Linked DNA regions of Homo sapiens. The protein of the gene in region 5 interacts with the protein of the main gene of each other region in a pairwise test. Each region holds a gene or a part of one and is shown on either strand. Other genes may lie near its edges.

What was found.
Region 1: the proteins of POC1A (region 5) and CDH1 interact in a two-hybrid assay, tested with the Homo sapiens proteins (one large-scale study listed by IntAct).
Region 2: the proteins of POC1A (region 5) and ATXN3 interact in binary tests that used the Homo sapiens proteins (3 or more experiments, as listed by UniProt).
Region 3: the proteins of POC1A (region 5) and PECAM1 interact in binary tests that used the Homo sapiens proteins (3 or more experiments, as listed by UniProt).
Region 4: the proteins of POC1A (region 5) and DLST interact in binary tests that used the Homo sapiens proteins (3 or more experiments, as listed by UniProt).

What each region holds. Positions count from the first base shown.
Region 1 is NC_000016.10:68,833,665-68,836,384, reverse strand, and holds the end of CDH1 (cadherin-1 isoform 1 preproprotein), read right to left. Parts: 3' UTR 848-2,720; downstream 1-847.
Region 2 is NC_000014.9:92,103,783-92,108,012, forward strand, and holds the start of ATXN3 (ataxin-3 reference isoform), read right to left. Parts: upstream 2,801-4,230; 5' UTR 2,771-2,800; coding exon 2,747-2,770; intron 1-2,746. UniProt on the Homo sapiens protein: Deubiquitinating enzyme involved in protein homeostasis maintenance, transcription, cytoskeleton regulation, myogenesis and degradation of misfolded chaperone substrates.
Region 3 is NC_000017.11:64,318,761-64,322,080, forward strand, and holds the end of PECAM1 (platelet endothelial cell adhesion molecule precursor), read right to left. Parts: 3' UTR 655-3,320; downstream 1-654. UniProt on the Homo sapiens protein: Cell adhesion molecule which is required for leukocyte transendothelial migration (TEM) under most inflammatory conditions.
Region 4 is NC_000014.9:74,884,802-74,888,648, reverse strand, and holds part of DLST (dihydrolipoyllysine-residue succinyltransferase component of 2-oxoglutarate dehydrogenase complex, mitochondrial isoform 1 precursor), read right to left. Parts: intron 3,064-3,847; coding exon 3,015-3,063; intron 1-3,014. UniProt on the Homo sapiens protein: Dihydrolipoamide succinyltransferase (E2) component of the 2-oxoglutarate dehydrogenase complex. The 2-oxoglutarate dehydrogenase complex catalyzes the overall conversion of 2-oxoglutarate to succinyl-CoA and CO(2).
Region 5 is NC_000003.12:52,074,726-52,078,421, forward strand, and holds the end of POC1A (POC1 centriolar protein homolog A), read right to left. Parts: intron 1,261-3,696; coding exon 1,162-1,260; 3' UTR 501-1,161; downstream 1-500.

The DNA.
Region 1 (2,720 bases), on a different chromosome or scaffold from region 5:
CCCCTTCAACAGAGAAAAGTTTTAGGCTTACACCAGGGTTTCTTAACAGTGGCTGACATTTTGTGCTGGATAATTCTTTGTTGTGAGGAACTGTCCCGTGCAGGGATGTTTAGCAGCACCCCTGGCCTTGATGTGGTGACAAGACCACCTCCCCAGGTACTCCAGAAATTGCAAAATGTCACATGGAGGAGGGGGCTACATTCTTCCCCAGCAGAGAACCACTGGCCTGTACTCACTTGCTGACCCCGAGAACATCGTTTGAAACTTTGCTCTGTCCCGTCCTTCAGCTTGGCCCACACAGTCTCCCGTGGACATGGGAATTTTATTGGTTTCATCACATGCCACATGGATGGATACTGTTCAAATAAAGTTACCATGTGAATGTAGTTTCTCCCATGTTCATCCAGTAGAATGATAGAAACTTCTGGAGAAGTCACTTCAGCATGAAGTTTTTTAAAAATTTTTTTATTTTTTTGAGATGGAGTCTCCTCTGTCACCTAGGCTGAAGTGCAGTGGCGCAACCTCGGCTCACTGCAACCTCTGCCTCCTGAGTTCAAGTGATTCTCATGTCTCAGCCTCTCGAGTAGCTGGGACTACAGGCGCGCGCCACCACGCCCAGCTAATTTTTGTGTTTTTGTGGAGACAGGGTTTCACTACGTTGCCCAGGCTGGTCTCAAACTCCTGAGCTCAAGTGATCTACCTGCCTCGGCCTCCCGAAGTGCTGAGATTACAGGCATGAGCCACCGCGCCCGGCCTCTTTCTCCACGTTTTGACTGAGGCCATCTCCATGCATCTTTTCTCTTGACTGGAAATGTGGTGGAATCAAATAAAACAAATTTGACAATGGTTTAACAAAATTGTTTAATAAAATTTATAAAAATGCATCTTTGAGAATACTTTTCTCAGCTTGAATTGTTTTCCTTTTCCACCCCCAAAGAAAATACACAATTATCAGCACCCACACATGTATACACTCAAAACTACAGTGACATTCTCTACACAGAACTATATTCGATATAGCTTGAACTGCCGAAAAATCAAGACAATTCCAAAAAGTGATTGCAGGGTTGATTTTTTTCTCCAAAACACTTGAGAAACAGTAAAGCTATTTCAACAAAAGTCTTTTCTTTGATTGTCAAAAGTTGAAATTCACATTTAAATAAAAAGAGATCCAAATCAAGATCCTCACTACCCCCTACCCCTCAACTAACCCCCTTTAGGGCCACATTTTCTTCTTGCTCCTAAGAAAAAAATTTGGAATTTTGAATATTCTCGGTTTTCTGTGCACACCTGGAATTGGGCAAATGTGTTCAGCTCAGCCAGCATTTTCTGTAGACATCATCAAAAGCAGGCACTTGGGGATTCTGGGCTTTGAGTACAAACCACGGATCTTGTGTCAGAAACACATGTTGAGACTCCTCCATTCCTTCCAGAATTTTCAGAGATGAGGTAGACCCACCTCAATCATCCTCAGCATCAGTTTGCTAAATTGCCAGGCTCAATGACAAGCTCTCCTGCCATCTCCAAGCCCACTTTTCATAGTTCCGCTCTGTCTTTGGCTGCAGCACTTTAGGCACTATTCTAAGTCCTGGAGTATATCACTCTTGCTTCAGAGCTAAATAAACATTAATGAACACACTTACTCAGAACAAGTCACTGGATAGCTGCCCATTGCAAGTTACATACTCAGGAGATGAAAGAGGGAAGCCATTAAAGGTCTTCAGAGTAGACAATACCTAGTCAAGATGTGGCCAGACAAAGACACAAACTTCTTACCCTAAAAGAGCCCAATAATTTCTGCATCAGAGAACTCCTATCTTGGGCAAAGCAACTGAATTCAGGAGTGAGAGTTGATATTAAAACATGGAGGCTGGGCACAGCAGCTCATGCCCACAATCCCAGCACTTTGGGGGGCCAAGGCAGAAGGATTGCTTGAGGCCAGGAGTTTAAGACCAGCTTGGGCAACATAGCAAGACCCCATCTGTACAAAAAAATAAAAAGGAGGCTGGTGGGAGAACTGCTTGAGCCCCAGAGTTTGAGGTTACAGTGAGCTATGATCACATCACTGCATCCCAGGCCTGGGCGATGGAGCGAAACTGTCTCTTAAAAAATGGCAGGGAGTTGGGGAGCTGGGCAGGTGCAGTGGCTCATGTCTGTAATCCCAATACTCTGGGAGGCCAAGATGGGAGGATCACTTGAGCCCAGGAGTTTGAGACCAGCCTGGGTAACACAGGGAGACCCCGTCTCAAATATTTAAAAAATTAGTCATGCGTAGTGGTGCATGCCTGTGGTCCCAGCTACTTGGGAGGCTGAGGTGCAAGGATAGCTTGAGCCTGGGAGGACAAGGCTGCAGTGAGCTGTGATTGCACCACTGCACTCCAGCCTGGCCGATAGAATGAGACCCTGTCTTAAAAAAAAAAAAAAGGCAGAGGGACACACCAGTGTAGTAATGAGCAGAAGCACACAAATTTTTTTTAAAAAATTATATACACAAAACAACAGAACTAGAGTAGCTGACTTCTCCCCTTCTTTTTAAAAGTGAGACAAAATTCCTTAAGAAAATCTGCAAGGTGCTGGGTGAACCTTCTGATGCTAAAGTTGTTCTTCTGGAATATTAAAATTTGGGTATCTTTTGGACATCACCACCATGTAAAGAGTGATGGGAAAAAAAAAAAAGCTTTAAGAAATAAGTCGAAACTTTTCTAACACAAACTTATTAG
Region 2 (4,230 bases), on a different chromosome or scaffold from region 5:
AGGAAATGGTTGCAAGGCCCTTCGTAGGCAGATATTGCTACCTACACAGCTTCTTTAGGGCCAAAGTTGGTTCTCTGGCTCTCCAAACCCAGGACCTAGCAAGGGTTAAAGGTATATTGCAGAGGGGAAGGCAGTGAACGGAAAAATGGCACAGTAAGCCCAAACATTCCCAGAATGGACTGTATAGGAGATTAACAATTGGGCCATATGGTTATAGGTGCGTACTCTTGAGGACGCCCAAAAAACTAAATTGTTGAATCTTCACATGCTATGTAGATACAAGTTGATGATAATGGTAAAGGTATTCCTGAAGTATCTGTAGGCCTATACACATGCTGATAATTAAGAGGGACTCTTTTTTCCTTTTCTTTTTTTTGAGACGGAGTCTCGCTCTGTTGCCCAGGCTGAAGTGCAGTGGCACGGTCTCGGCTCACTGCAACCTCTGCCTCTCGGGTTCAAGCAATTCTCCTGCCTCAGCCTCCAGAGTACCTGGGATTACAGGCGCCTGCCACCACACCTGGCTAATTTTTTGTATTTTTAGTAGAGACGGGGTTTCACCATGTTGGCCAGGCTGGTCTCAAACTACTGACCTCATGATCCGCCCGTCTGGGCCTCCCAAAGCACTGGTGTGAGCCACTGCACCCAGACTAAGAGGGATTTCTTTCGGGTAAGTAGATTTTCACTAGGCTAGCACTCAGCTTTTTTTCATCCCATGGGTCAGTACAAATGTGTCCCAACTAGGTAACAATATTGTTAAAAATCTTGTCTAATTCTCAGGAAGTAGTGTGGAACATGTTTAAGGCCTTCCATGTTGAAATGTGGTCCCACACCAAAGCCTTTGAAAATTAATAACAAAAATATGGCCGGGTGCGGTGGCTCACGCCTGTAATCCCAGCACTTTGGGAGGCCGAGGCGGGCGGACCACCTGTCAGGAGTTGGAGACCAGCCTGGCCAACATGGTGAAACCCTGTCTCTACTAAAAATACAAAAATTAGCTGGGCGTGGTGGCGGGCGCCTGTAATCTCAGCTACTGGGGAGACTGAGGCAGGAGAATCGCTTGAACGGGGAGGCGGAGGTTGCAGTGAGCCATGATGGCGCCATTGCACTCCAGCCTGGGTGACAAGAGCCAAACTCCATCTCAAAAAAAAAAAAAAAAAAGTACGTGTGTATTTTTCACGCACTCTACTCAGCCAAGCAACCAAATCTCTATTGTCTATGATTTACGAGTCATGTCAATCAAGTCAAAAAATTAGTGACAACTATACGACTGAGTCCTTCCTCCCCCACTGAACATCAGCCTATTTCAAAAGTTTCCGAGATGTTTTCTACAATGAAAAGCATTGTACTTAACAATTTGTTCCAGGCACAGTGGCTCACGCCTGTAATCACAGCACTTCGAGAGGCCGAGGTGGGAGAATCACCTGAGTCCAGGAGTTCGAGACCAGCCTGGGCAACACAGCGAGACCCCGTCTCTCCCAAAAACATTACCTGGCCCTGGCGATATGCACCTGTAGTCCCAGCTACTCTGGAGGCAGAGGCGGGAGGATCGCTTGTGCCTAGGAGATCAAGGCTGCAGTGAGCCATGATCTCTCCATTGCACACCTGCCTGGGTGACAGAATGAGACCCCATCTTTAAAATAAAAATTAAAAAAAATTTATGCTACAGATTTACATTTGGTAAATGTATTCTTTTGTCTTTGCTTTATTTGTTGTGTGTGTGTGAATTTTAAATGTCTGGGATAAATGATCATTTATAAGTATTTAATAAAACAAAAACCCTTTGCTCCTCCTATTAAATAACAGCCTTACCAGCAACTCTTTCCAAACACGAAACTATTATGAAACATGATACCATGTGCCAAAGCTGTCCTGGGGAAGGCTTCACTCACACACAAATGGCTGGATAATAGTATGAGAGAAACGAGGAGTTTCTTTACATATCACAAACAGTATCTTCAAGTGCATGGTCACGGAAGAGTTAAAGGGACAGCAGGCTAGGCAGACTACAACAAAATCATCCCAGTCCACTCCTAATACCTAAAAACAAAGCTGGCCGCCTGCTCCGGAAAGATGGGAGTACCAAAAGAAACCAAACCCAAACATCCCGTAATAAAAACTCTTGTGACGACTTCCCTGTTTAGGGGCACGCCGGGTTTCCTACTTCACTTCCTAAATGTCAGGCCCTACAGTGGGCGAGCCAAGGTCTCCTCCCTCGGGAGGCTCGCGGACCTAGTGCAGGGGAAAGACACGAACAAGACCCCAAAGATCTACGTGTAGGGAAGACTCCAATATAGAATTGAGCAGTCCGGAGGAGGAAAAGTTAATTCTGCCAGGATTAGGGTAGGAGGGGTTGAGGGAGGTGTCCCAGAGATGACTCTAGCTAGACCCTAGGGAGAGGGAAGGATTGGGGAGGGGTGAAGGAATCCTCCGAAAAGCGATGGAAAGTGACGGAGAAAGGCAGAAGCAAACCCACTGGGCGCCACCCCACTCCCGTGTCCCGAGACGCCCCCGGCCCCGCCCATACTCCCTCCCGGCTCCCAGGGCGGGGGCCGCGGGGGAAGTAGGGGCGTAGGTGATGCTCCCCTCCTCGAGCCGAGGAGGCGGGAGGCTGCGGCGTCGCCCCTCGCCGGGCGAGATCGGCATGGGGGCGACTCGGGCCCCACCCAGCCCTCCGAGAGGCGGTGATGCCGCGCTCCACGCCCGCCACCGCGCGGCAGACAGCTCCCCACCGAACGCGGACACTCACTTTCTCGTGGAAGATGGACTCCATGTTTATTTGTCTGGAGCCAACGGCCCCCACGCCGAACCACCCCCTCCAGCTCCGCCCCCTGCCCCTCTCCTCCGCCCACCCCGCCCCTCCCCGGCCCGCCCCGGTACCCCGCCCACGTGCCGCACGCAGACCAATCACCCGTGAGGATGCGAGTGTCGTGAAGCGAAGAGCGAGTGAACGCCGGGGACACGTGACCTTGGTAGCGCGTCCTCCTAGCTTCTGTTAGCGGGCCTTCTGGGGGATGCTACATCGCCACCTGCTGTCTGGAGGATCTTCTCCGCTTCCCACCCATTTCTATGGATTCTTAGGTTTCTGGGGGGAGGTCTGGACCGCTCACCTGGGTTCTATGTTCTTTTTGTTTTCCACTTTGACTTTCTACTGTGTTCATATAACTATTTACTTTCTTTCTCCTCCTCCTGCACTGAAAGTTTAGTAAGAAAAAAGCCATCATTACATTCTCCCAAAACCCAGCACTTGTATAAAAATGATAGCTAGGCCGGGCGAGGTGCTTCACGCTTGTAATCCCAGCACTTTGGGAGGCCGAGGCGGGCGGATCACCTGAGGTCGGGAGTTTGAGATCAGCCTGACCAACATGGAGAAACCCCGTCTCCACTAAAAATACAAAATTACCCGGGCGTGGTGGTGCATGCCTGTAATCCCAGGTACTCGGGAGGCTGAGGCAGGAGAATCGCTTGAACCCGGGAGGCCGAGGTTGTGGTGAGCCGAGATCGTGCCATTGCACGCCAGCCTGGGCAACAAAAGCGAAACCCCTCCCCCACCACCCCAAAAAAGAAAAAAAATGATAGTTAATATTTACATAAGGCTTTCTATGAGCTAGGCACTTTTCTAAATGCTTTGCATATATTATCAAATTTAATACAGCAAACTTTGATGTAGGTGTTGATGTTATTCATACACATGAGGAAACCGAGGCACGGAGAGGTTAAGAACAGCACAATGTCCAAGGTCAGATAGTAAGTTGTCTTGCCAGGATTCAAATCCAGGTGGCTTGTTACCAGTGTAGGTGTTCGGACCCTTTAGAGGGAACTTAGAAGTCCCATAAATTGTGTGGGAGACGGGGAGGTAGCAGCGGTTTGATGAAACTTAAATGGAAGGATAGGTGCAGATCTTGCACCTTGAAACCAGATTAAGGTGTACTTTTTTTTTTTTTTTTTTTGAGACGGCCCTCTCTCTGTCCCCCAGGCTGGAGTGCAGTGGCACAATCTCCCCGCTCACTGCAACTTCTGCTTCCTGGGTTCAAGTGATTCTCTTGCCTCAGCCTCCCAAACAGCTGGGATTACAGGCGTGCACCACGAAGTCCAACTATTTTTGTATTCTTAGTAGAGAAGAGGTTGTACCATGTTGGCCAGGCTGGTCTCGAACCCCCAGCCTCAGGTGATCCACCTGCCTTGGCCTCCCAAAGTCCTGGAATTACAGGCGTGAGCCACCGCACCTGGCCA
Region 3 (3,320 bases), on a different chromosome or scaffold from region 5:
GAAGCTGAGACAGGAGGATTGCTTGAGCCCGGGAGGTCAAGGCTGCAGTGAGCCATGTTCACACCAGTGCACTCCAGCCTGCGTGACAGAGCAAGACTCTTTATCTCAAAACAAACAAAGACATGGATAAAAGCTATGGATTCTCTCCCATAGAAAACTGCACACCCTCATAACCTTTTGCACCTACTCTTTTTTTTTTTTGAGACAGAGTTTCGCTCTTGTTGCCCAGGCTGGAGTGCAATGGCTCGATCTTGGCTCACCACAACCTCTGCCTCCCAGGTTCAAGCAATTCTCCTGCCTCAGCCTCCCGAGTAGCTGAGATTACAGGCATGCACCACTACGCCCGGCTGATTTTGTATTTTTAGTAGAGATGGGGTTTCCCCATATTGAGGCTGGTCTCGAACTCCTGACCTCAGCTGATCCACCCACCTCAGCCTCTCAAAGTGCTGGGGTTACAGGCGTGAGCCACCGCGCCCGGCTGCACCTACTCTTAGAGAATTCTCAGGCCCCACGCCTTACCCCAACTTCTGTTACCAGTGGTGAATCCAATGGGTCTGCAGCAAACTTGATGCTTGCCTTCTCAAAGACAGAACTCAGCTGAGGGGCAGAGGTGGTTTTAAGTGGTTTTAAGGCACAGGGAGAGACCAAGGCAAGTTTTAGAGCAGGAGTGAGAGTTTATTAAAAAGTTTTAGAGCAGGAACAAAAGGAAGTACACTACACTTGGGTCAGGCAGGCAACTTGAGAGATCTAAGTGCCCTGCCTGACCCTTAACTTGGGGTTTTATGTATTTGGCATAGTTCTGGGATTTACGTCTCATCTCCCCTGATTCTTCCCTTGCAGCAGGCTGTCCGCGTATGTGGTGACCTGCCAGCACTTGGAAGGGGTCGCATGCACAGTGTGATTACTGAAGTTGCGCGCATGCTCACTTGAGGCATTTTTCCCCTTACCAGTCGTGCGTTCCCAGAGGAAGGTAGGTCATATACTGGTTAAATTCCGCCATTTTGCCTCTTGGTGCGCATGCTCCAGGCTGCTTGCCCAGCTCCTGAGATCTTATCGGGAAGCGGCTGATCACCAGATCAGGGTGTTTTGTATCTATTGAGAGACTGTCCTTGCTTGGAGCTGGCTGCAACCAATTATTATTTTACAGAGACAGTTTAACAACCACCTGACCATCACCTGATGGTAGCCTGACATTCCTGTGGGGGCCCTCACCTGTCCTGCTCATGTTTGCCTAGCTCCCTACTCTAACATTTCCACTCTGTGGACCCCAGGTTGAGATCTTCTGCAGGGAAGACTGTCCTCAAATAGCCTGCTGGGGAGACATCTCCTTCCCGTTTACCTTTCCATTTGCCCTTGCGGTGTTAGGCAAAGGCTGAAGCTGGCCTCTGTGGCAGAGGGTTTCTTCCCAACACGCCAATGACGCTGGTGGAGAGTCTTAAAAACAGCTGTGCTGGGGAGAGTTCTTGGTGTGTACCTTTCAGAGACCTCCTCCTTAAGACTCTCAAAGACTGAGTCAGGCCAGTGGGAGCCTGGCAGCAATTCTTAGGGGACAGTGACAGCTTTTTGAGGAGGACTAATTGGCTTCTAGGGCTGGAGGCCACTTGGGTCTGACAGACTGCCCTGCTGCCATCCCTCCAGGGCACCCCCCACTCCCTTGCCTCAGGGCCTTCCTGCACTTCTTCCTTTTGTCCTCAATGTTCTTCACCCCACCTTTTCCACTGGTACCCTCTGCCTATGGTCAAGGCTTTGGTGAGACCCACTTTCCTCTTAGACCTTCCTGGATCCCCCAAAGTCTGTGTTGGAAGCCCCTCCCATGTGCCCTTGTTTGAGCTTTTAATTTTCCACCATGACGCTTGTCACACTGCTTTGTAATTGGCTCTCTGTTAGTCTGCATCTCTACTGGGTTGTACCTTCCAGGAGGACAGCTGCCATGTGACTCTTGTAATCTTCCCACCGCCAACACCCAGCACAGCGTCAGGAACACAGAGCATGATGAGCACAAGCTTGTTGAGCAAACAGACAAATAACTGGATGCTTCTGTGCAGAGTTTCTCAACCTGGCCATTATTGGCATTTGGGACTTGATCATGCTTGGTCGTGGGAGACGGTTCTGTGCCTGTAGGATGTTTAGGAGCATGCTTGGTTTCTACCCACCAGATGCCGGGAGCACACCCACCCAGCTGTGACAACCAAAAATGTCTCCAGACACCATTCCAAAACCAGCGGGAGACAAAATCGCCCGACAGTCGTTGCTTTAGTGAGTGAATGTTGACCTAAGCGTCACTTCGCCTGTCTTGAGTCTAGGTCGGGGAGTGGGTTCAGTTAGCCAATCAGAGAACGCTGATGGGGCGACCAGTATATGCTCATGAAATGGGTGGCTGACCTCTTGGGGTCAGAAGAGGGAAAAGTTTTACTGTGTGTTGGCTAAGGACCATTTTAAGTCCTTCAGTGACCGATTACCACATGAGAACACAAGAGGGCGCTCTAACTAATGAGTTCCGCGGCCGAGAAAACTCCTGGAGTGGGTGCTCCTGGGATGCTTCAGGTTTAGACACCGGGGTTACGGCAGCTGCCGAGGAAGGCTAAAGCCAGCGTCCTGGATTCAGACAGACCTTTTAGCCATTAAATCCACTAAGAAAGATCCCTGCGCATGAAGTTTCCTCCTCGGAAATATAGGCAGAAGGGAAAGTAATTTTAAACTCATGTGTGCTCCACAGGCCGGGGGCGGTGGCTCATGCCTGCAATCCCAGCACTTTGCGAGGCCAAGGAGGGAGGATCACTTGAGCCCAGAAGTTCGAGACCAGCCTGGGCACCATGGTGAAACCTCATCTCTGCAAAAAAAAAATTAAAAATTAGCCAGCTATGGCGGCTCACGCCTCTGGTCCCAGCTACCCAGGAAGCTGAGATGGGAGGATCGCTTGAGCCCAGGGGTTCGAGGCTGCGGTGAGCCATTGTTGTGCCACTGCACTCCAGCCTGGGCAACAGAGCAAGCCCCTGTCTCAACAAAACAAAACAAAACAAAAAATTCAGTCGTGCTGCATAAGTAAGGCACCAGGAGTAGGAATAGGGTCTTTGCAGCTCCCGTGGCAATTGCCCTTCTCTGGTGGTGGCAAGGGACTAAGGAACTCCCTGGACACAGGGGATCTGGCTGTCCCCAGATCATCAACAGAGACATGAAGGTCGTTAGAGGTCGTCTGATCCTTTGACCTCAATCTGAGCCCACCACTCAGAAAACCTGGAAATTGTATGACATTTTCGTGATACAACTCGGTGTGTGTGTGTTGGGGAAAGGAACCAACAGCTTTCATCATATTGTCAAAA
Region 4 (3,847 bases), on a different chromosome or scaffold from region 5:
TGTAACCTCAAACTCCTGGATTTAAGGGATCCTCCCACCTCTGCCTCCCGGGTAGCTGGGACTACAGGCACATGCCACCCAGATAATTTTTTTAAATTACTTTTTGTAGACTATGGATTTCATTGCCCAGACGGGTCTCAAAGATCCTACCCAAAGTGCTGGGATTACAGGAGTGAGTCACCATGTCCAGCCAGGTCTCTTCCTTAACTAAATCCGAGATAGATTTACGGCCTGCCCAGGGTACAAGCCATTGTGCAAGGTATAATGGAATTTCTGCCCTCAAGATAACAGATTTAGATCAGATAAGGCAGCAAGATTAACAAGGTTAACTCGGAAGTAAAACAAGGTGTTATGCCAAAAAAAAAAAAAAAAAACCCAAAAACAAAAAAACCACACACAAACCCCATATGGTATCTCCTACTCGGTTCTCTTGCTAGAAAACAGCACATCAACACATTCTGGATTCATTCAAAACGAACCTCAAAGACCAAGGCGTTTACTGATATGGCCTTTACAGTAAATAATATAAACTGGAGAATCAGCTCACCCTGTATGCACAAAGCCATTAACAGTGGTTACCTCTGAGGGGTGAGAGATGTAGACATATATGGTATCTCTGGTTATGTGTTGCACACTTACACAATTTGGGAGAATGATTTGGATGGGGACTTTCACTTTTTACACTTCAGGATTGTCTGAATATTCCACAACAAGCATTTTTATAATAGAAAAGTAAAAGAGATTTAAGTTGTCTTTAGGTATTTTTACTTTTATAATGTCAAAATAACTATAAGGTCTATGTATAACCAAGAAAAAATGAAGATATTTAAAAACTACAAGAATACAAATTGTTCTACATATAGTTTGTAACCTTGTAAAGTACATGCCTATAGGCAAGAACTAACAGGTAACATGCAAGTGCAGAGGCTGCTCTGCAAGTCATCCAGGAACCCGGAGTGGTGGCCACCACTACCCAAGAGGCATTCGGGGGGCTAGAGGACAAGGATAAAAAAGTCTTCTCATGGACACCCTTTTTACTTTTTGAATTTTTAATCATGTAAATATAATACTATTAGTAAAAACATAAAACCAAAAATTGTTTTACAATAAAAGATTTATTAAATAAAGTGGGTACCTTATTCACAAAAAAGGCACAACACACACAAAGATACTGGATTAGGGTGACATGATTGGGGTGATCCCACACAAAGTTTACTTTTTCTTCATTATTTACTTTCAAATATTTAGTGTATTTATTGTAGAGAGTCATGATTGCCCCAATTTTCATTTGATTGCAGATGAGTAATACATTTTGAATCTCTAAATAACTAGATGTTCACTACAGAATATTAGAAATAGCAAAAAGAATACTTACAATGGGATCATACCACACAGTAGAAAATGAAATTATTTTGTAACCTGCTTTTTCCCACTTTTCATAGTGTGAACATGTGAACATGCTATAGTTTAGCCAATCCCTTGCTCTTTGCCATTTTAAGATAAATCTGATAATATTTATATTATCAGATATTAAATCTGAGATAAATATACCAGGAGTTCTTCAGTATAGATTCCTAGAGATGGAATTGCTAGATGAAAAGGAACACACAGGCCGGGCAGTGGCTCATGCTTGTAATCCCAGCACTTTGGGAGGCTGAGTCGGGCGGATCACCTGATGTCAGGAGTTTCAGAGACCAGCCTGGCCAACAAGATGAAACCCCGTCTCTACTAATACAAAAATCAGCCAGGTGTGGTAGCGTGCGCCTGTAATCCCAGCTACCCAGGAGGCTGAGGCAGGAGAATTGCTGGAACCCGAGAGGCAGAGGCTGCAGTGAGCCGAGATCGCGCCACTGCACTCCAGCCTGGGTGACAGAGCAAGACTCCATCTTGAAAAAAAGAAAAAAAGAAAAGGTACACACACTTCAAAGACTTATGACTATCAAACTGCCCTCCAAAATAACACCGGGATTCATATTTCTAGTACTGAGTGCAACATTTACTCAAATTTTAAAAAATCAGCCAGGCACCATAGCTCACGCCTGTATCCTCCACTTTGGGAGGCTAAGGCAAGTGGATGGATTGCTTGAGCCCAGGAGTTTGACACCAGCCCAGGTATCATGGCAAAACAACCCCATCTCTACAAAAAATACAAAAAACAACCGGGCATGGTGGCATGTGCCTGTAGTCTCAGCTACTCAGGAGGCTGAGGTGAAAGGATCTCTTGAGCCCAGGAGGCTGAGGATGCAGTGAGCCAAGATCAGGCTACCGCACTCCAGCCAAAGTGGCAGAGCAAGATCCTGTCTCAAAACAACAACAACAAAAACCCTCATTGTGATGTAGAGTAAGTAAGAAGCTCATCCGCTGACCTCTTCACTTTGAGGATTCTCCCTGTAGAGTAAGCAGCCTGACAGCTGCTGAACAGGTTACTAGAGAGCATTCTCTTAGCACCACCACAAAAACACTTGGAATGCAAAGCAGCATTTAAGCAACATTCATACGCAGAAGTTAATCTGAAACACACATGGGTAGCCTTTCTCCAAACTCTGCATTATGCAATAACAGCATTCCCTCCAAACTAGTCAGTCAGTCCCAGGACTCAACCAGTTTTATGCTTTTACTGTTTTTAAAAATGAGTAACTATGCTACTGAGAGGATGCTCTCAATCTCCACAATAAATGTAACCTCGAGCCTTTCAGCTGCACTTACATCCAAACAGAATATCTAGGAGCACCCTTCTATATCCCATAAAAAGAGGATTCCAACTTAACTTTCATTATAATCCAAACACCTGTGGAGAGTGGGCACACTCCCAGTCCAAAACCTGACACGGAGCTGATGCTCAAGGAACATCACATGGGAAAAGTGAACATTGAGGTTAGTCTAGGGACTCAACATAATCACCTCAATTTCTAGGTCTGGAGGCCAGTGAAGAAATCAGATGGTCAAATTTAGAACTTTATGTCTTTAAATAAATAACCCGTGGCCACATATCTGTACTCCCCAGTGATACTTACACAACCTTCCTGCTGTTAGGGTAACCTGGTCCCTGGCATAAGGAGACCCCTGCAAGAAACAAAATAACTCTTAACCAACAACTCTTATCTCACAAAGGATACATGCTGGGAATGGAAAAGGTCTGCTCACCCCCAACCCTGAGACAGAGCAGGATCAACGGCAACGGATATAATCTTTATCATAGAGTCCTGCTTCTCAAACTTTTCCAAAGTAGCCTTAGTGGCAGAGAGCAAATGGGTATGTGAGATCGAGTGGGTATGTGTTTGGCTGGGGAGGAAAGAGAAAAAATTTGATGGCACAGCCCAAAGTGATTATATAATCTCATCTACCTTAAAAAGCCAGAACTTTTCATTATTCCTGTATGTTTTCATAATAAAATGTCTCTACTCGCCAAGTCTTCAAATACAACTGAAGCTTGAGAAAGACATGGGATGGCTTATCCTGTGACTATACATAACCCAATTTGAGAAGCAAGGAGGATGTTTGGTCTGGGTTTGAAAAGATTGGGTTGGAAATCTTATCACCTGAATCCTAGTAGCAAAGACTTGGCTACTTTAGGCTCGGGGTCTCCAGTTTGTCCTAGAGCTGAGAAAATCATGTCCCCATCTTTCAGTTTATTGACTTCCCATGCCTTTCTGAAGTCTTCCACCCTGGTCACTCTCAACAAGGTGAGAGACCCTTTCTGCCCACCAGCTGTCCTTATCATAGTTAACTGCATTTCCCCAACTGATGACTAGTAACTACAGCTGCCTCTTCTGAATTCTTTCTTATGTCTTTTTTCTTTCAGATTAACAACTCTTTCTGAACCATGGGCTCAGGACACACCAAATGA
Region 5 (3,696 bases):
GGCATGCAGGCTCTGCTTCCACCTGGAGGCTGCAGAGGCTGTGAACCCACTGACCACGTGGTACTGACAGCTCCTGGGACGATCTAACACCACCTCCCATTCCCCAGGGCAGGGCAGGTGTGTTTGAGGATAAAGACCTCCTTGGCTGGCTGAGCCCCAAGAAGCTGAAGACGGAAGGCACGGGCGACACACAGACACAGGGAAAACATTTGTCCTGGCTTCCCCAGCACAGGGGCAGAGGGAGGACCCTATGGAAGCCCTCAGGAGCAAATGGAAACTTGGGTGCCTGAGGCCTCTGAGTCCCAACAGAAGCAGTCAGTGGGGGCCAGCCAGAGGGAGGTGGGTGCATGCAAGGGCTCTGACTGCCCTTGTTCCCCGACACCCTGAACAGCTGCAAACAGGGGGGTCCTGGCCTCAGAGGCAATCCTGGCAGAGGCCGTCCCAAGTCACCATTCTCATTCTGTTTGGGCCCTGGGGATGGGAAGATTGATTAAGTGTCATCCAGCATAAGCCACTCCTGCAACAAGTGCAATGAAGTCAGGTTTAATTTTGAGATTCCTGTGCCCTCACTCACGCAAGGAGGAAGTCACCTGGCTCCAGTGAACACGTGTGGAACAGAAATCAGGGCCACTGAAAAGCCACCACCCACTTGAGAGGGCTTGTTCTCAACAAACCTGACTCAGATGGGCCCACTTTGGGCCTTTAGTCAGATTTAGAGAAAACCCCCGGCTCATCCAATCAATGTGCAATCAATTTCTACACCATGGCAGAGGTAGGAAAAGCCAGTCACATGTCCAAATGATGAGTGAAAATCAAGGCATCGTGGAGCCACCTCCTCCAGAGGGGGAGCCACAATCTCAGGACCCCGAAGGAGCAGACATTTTCAAGTGGCTCCTTTACATTAAGCAAAATGTGGTCCTCTCATTCGGGTCTGAAGCATCATTTGTGTGTGAGCCCGGCCCACTGGGGACCTCTGGCTGCCAGGTGGAGAGCCTCCTGGTGCAGATAGCAAGGTGGAGGGCAGAACTGCAAAAATCCAGGGCTCCAGTATGGATGTGATTCCCACAGAGTTCAGTCCCCTTTATTTACCCAAGTCCCATGGTACAAATCCCTGGCCTGCCACCTGCAAATCCACCGAGCTCCTGATTCCTGCTCCCCTGATCATGGTGTTGCTCTCTGCATGATTAGCTGCTGGTTCTCCAGACACTGCTTCAGCTTGTCTTCTGTCAGTGTCAACCGCTGCTCCAGAATGGAGACTGTCTGCAAAATAAACAGTGGTTGGGTCAGAACACAGAAGGGCCGCCAGGCTGCTCTAGGGACCCCCTTGGCCAGTCCCCACTTGGCTGCCTCAGCCACTGCCCAAATGCCAGCTGGCTCTTTCCACCCAGGGGTTCTGCCAGGCCCCTTGTCTCTGGTGCTATTGGGATAGCCCTTGCCTTTATGTCTGCTTCTCCTGGCTCTGGATGGCTGATCTATAATGTTTGTGGGCAGGGGGTGGGGACACAGTGAGGGAAACTAGATGGCAGGTCCCATAGCCTTTGGTCATTTCTCAAGAGAACCAAGGGGTCAGGAACCCCCCACCCTGGTGGCCTGGCATTTATATTGGAGTTCTGCAGCAAAACCAGTTTCCTTGTCTGAGCCAGGCACTGTCCATAAACAACTGGAGACCATCAACCACCTCCACTCCAGAGGTGAGAAAATTGCACCCACAAATGATGGCACTCCACTTGGGTCCTTCCCCTCACACCTGGAAGAGCCTCCCAGGCTGGCAGGGGACAAAGGCAGGGAGGTGAGTCCCCTGATCCCAGGAGGGTCTCTGCCTGTCCAAGTCCAACGAATACTACTATAGGATATGTCATGTGGGACTTCAGCCCAGGGCAATCACAGGCCATGACAACTTCATCTCTCTGAGCCCACTTTCTCCTCCTTCGCCCAGTGCGAAAGACAACCAAGCTCATGGCCTAGGTAACTCAGCAGCCCAGCAGTTGCTCACTCTGACCATGCTTGTCAGAGTGCTTGTCAGGCAGATCATGCTGCCTTCCTGAAGCTGGGCCCTTGCTCTCCTGGCCTCTCTTACACACCCAGCACAATGGCTCACCTGCGGACCTGGCTGCCTGGCCTGCCAAAGGCCCCCAGCTGCTGGAGCTGCATGTGCTTCATGGGCCAGGGCCAGTCTTGCAGACATAGCTCCCAGACAGGCTGGGAAAAGCTGCCCTCCTCCTCTGGCTTTGGATAGAGTGTCAGCAGAGGGGCAGCACTGTCTGGGAGCCTGCATGCTCCCCAAAGAGGGGCTGGACCAGAGCAAGCCTGCCCCACTCATCACTTGCGCGGGTTGGACCATGCTGGCCATGACGCCTTTGGCATCATTTCACTTCCCTCTTTAGGGTTGGCTGAGTGCCTTACTGTATGCCAGGCCCCTGCTGGCCAATGGATGAGCCCATGTGAGTATGGCAGCCTTGACTCCGGTACTGTGCAGCCCATAGGCATCAGGAGGGTCAGATTAACCTCACCCGTGTGCTTTCCCAAGAGGTTTTGCCCCCTTCCCTGGGGCTCCATGAAGTCCTGGGCCTTGGTCCAGTGGAAAGGAAACTTTCTTTCATACATTTAATAAAACATTGAAACATTTTAGAAGGGAGTCTCCCCCTTTAAGGCTGCTATAAATTCTTGCAGCGTCCGGCACAGACATTAGCTGCCATGGAGGGTGCTCCGCCTGGTGGCTGGCCCCTTCTAAATGGGCCAATCAGGGCTGTGAGGGCTCTGAACCCTCTGTCACTGGACAGAGCCTGGAAAAATTGCTGCCCATGGAACACAAACTGCACCCTAAGAGGCAGAGCTGAGCTGAAAGAGACCATCACATTCCCCCTGTGCTGGCCAGCCAGCCGGGGAGGGGGTCTGCAGCTCGTAAAAGTGGCAGCGGAAACAGCCCCTGGCTGGCCCGGGGCAGCATTCCTGGAAGTTTCCACTGGCTGCTGTGAAACTCATAGGGCCAAAATCATTCTTCATCCAGACTTTTTCCGATGGCCCCAAACTCAAGGCCGCAGCAGAGGAGCCTGTTTTTCCTCTTCTGCCTTTTTTTTTTTCTTGAAACTTTTCACAGGAACCCAATTTGCAAACGTGGAGATAGTGGGCCCAGAAAACGTGGGTGAGGTGCTGGGCCAACGTCAATACAAGGGACTCCACTTAGTTCCATAGGGGGCCCATACTTCAGCTCAGTAGGAATGTGACCACTAAATGTGTCTAAATTATTTGAAAAGAGAAGCATCACCTGTTTCACAACCAGCCCCCTGCATGAAGGGTGCCACCCCGTTGAGGCCTTCCTCTGAGAGCTTTGAGGATCACTTCACAGCACAGTAGACAAACAGGCTTTTATGAGGCCCAACACCCCTCAAGGCAGTTTCTCCCCCTCCAGCCTAGCTTCAGAGGAGCTGTGTCATCTCTGTGTTTGGTCTCAGCTTCCCCTGTTCCTTCTCTGCCAAGGTGCCTCGTGGTGGCCACCATCAGGGAGAAAGAAGTCCAACCAGGCCCTTCCCAGCACACGTGATCCCAGCTGCCCCCACTCTGAGCCAGGAGAAGGCCTGGGAGAGCAGGATGCTTTTTGGATTTCTGTACATTAGAATGCTGTCTGGCACTCTTTGCTCCATGTAGTTAAAAAAAAAAAATCCTACTTTCTTAAAAATTTTTATATTTTTCTTAAAA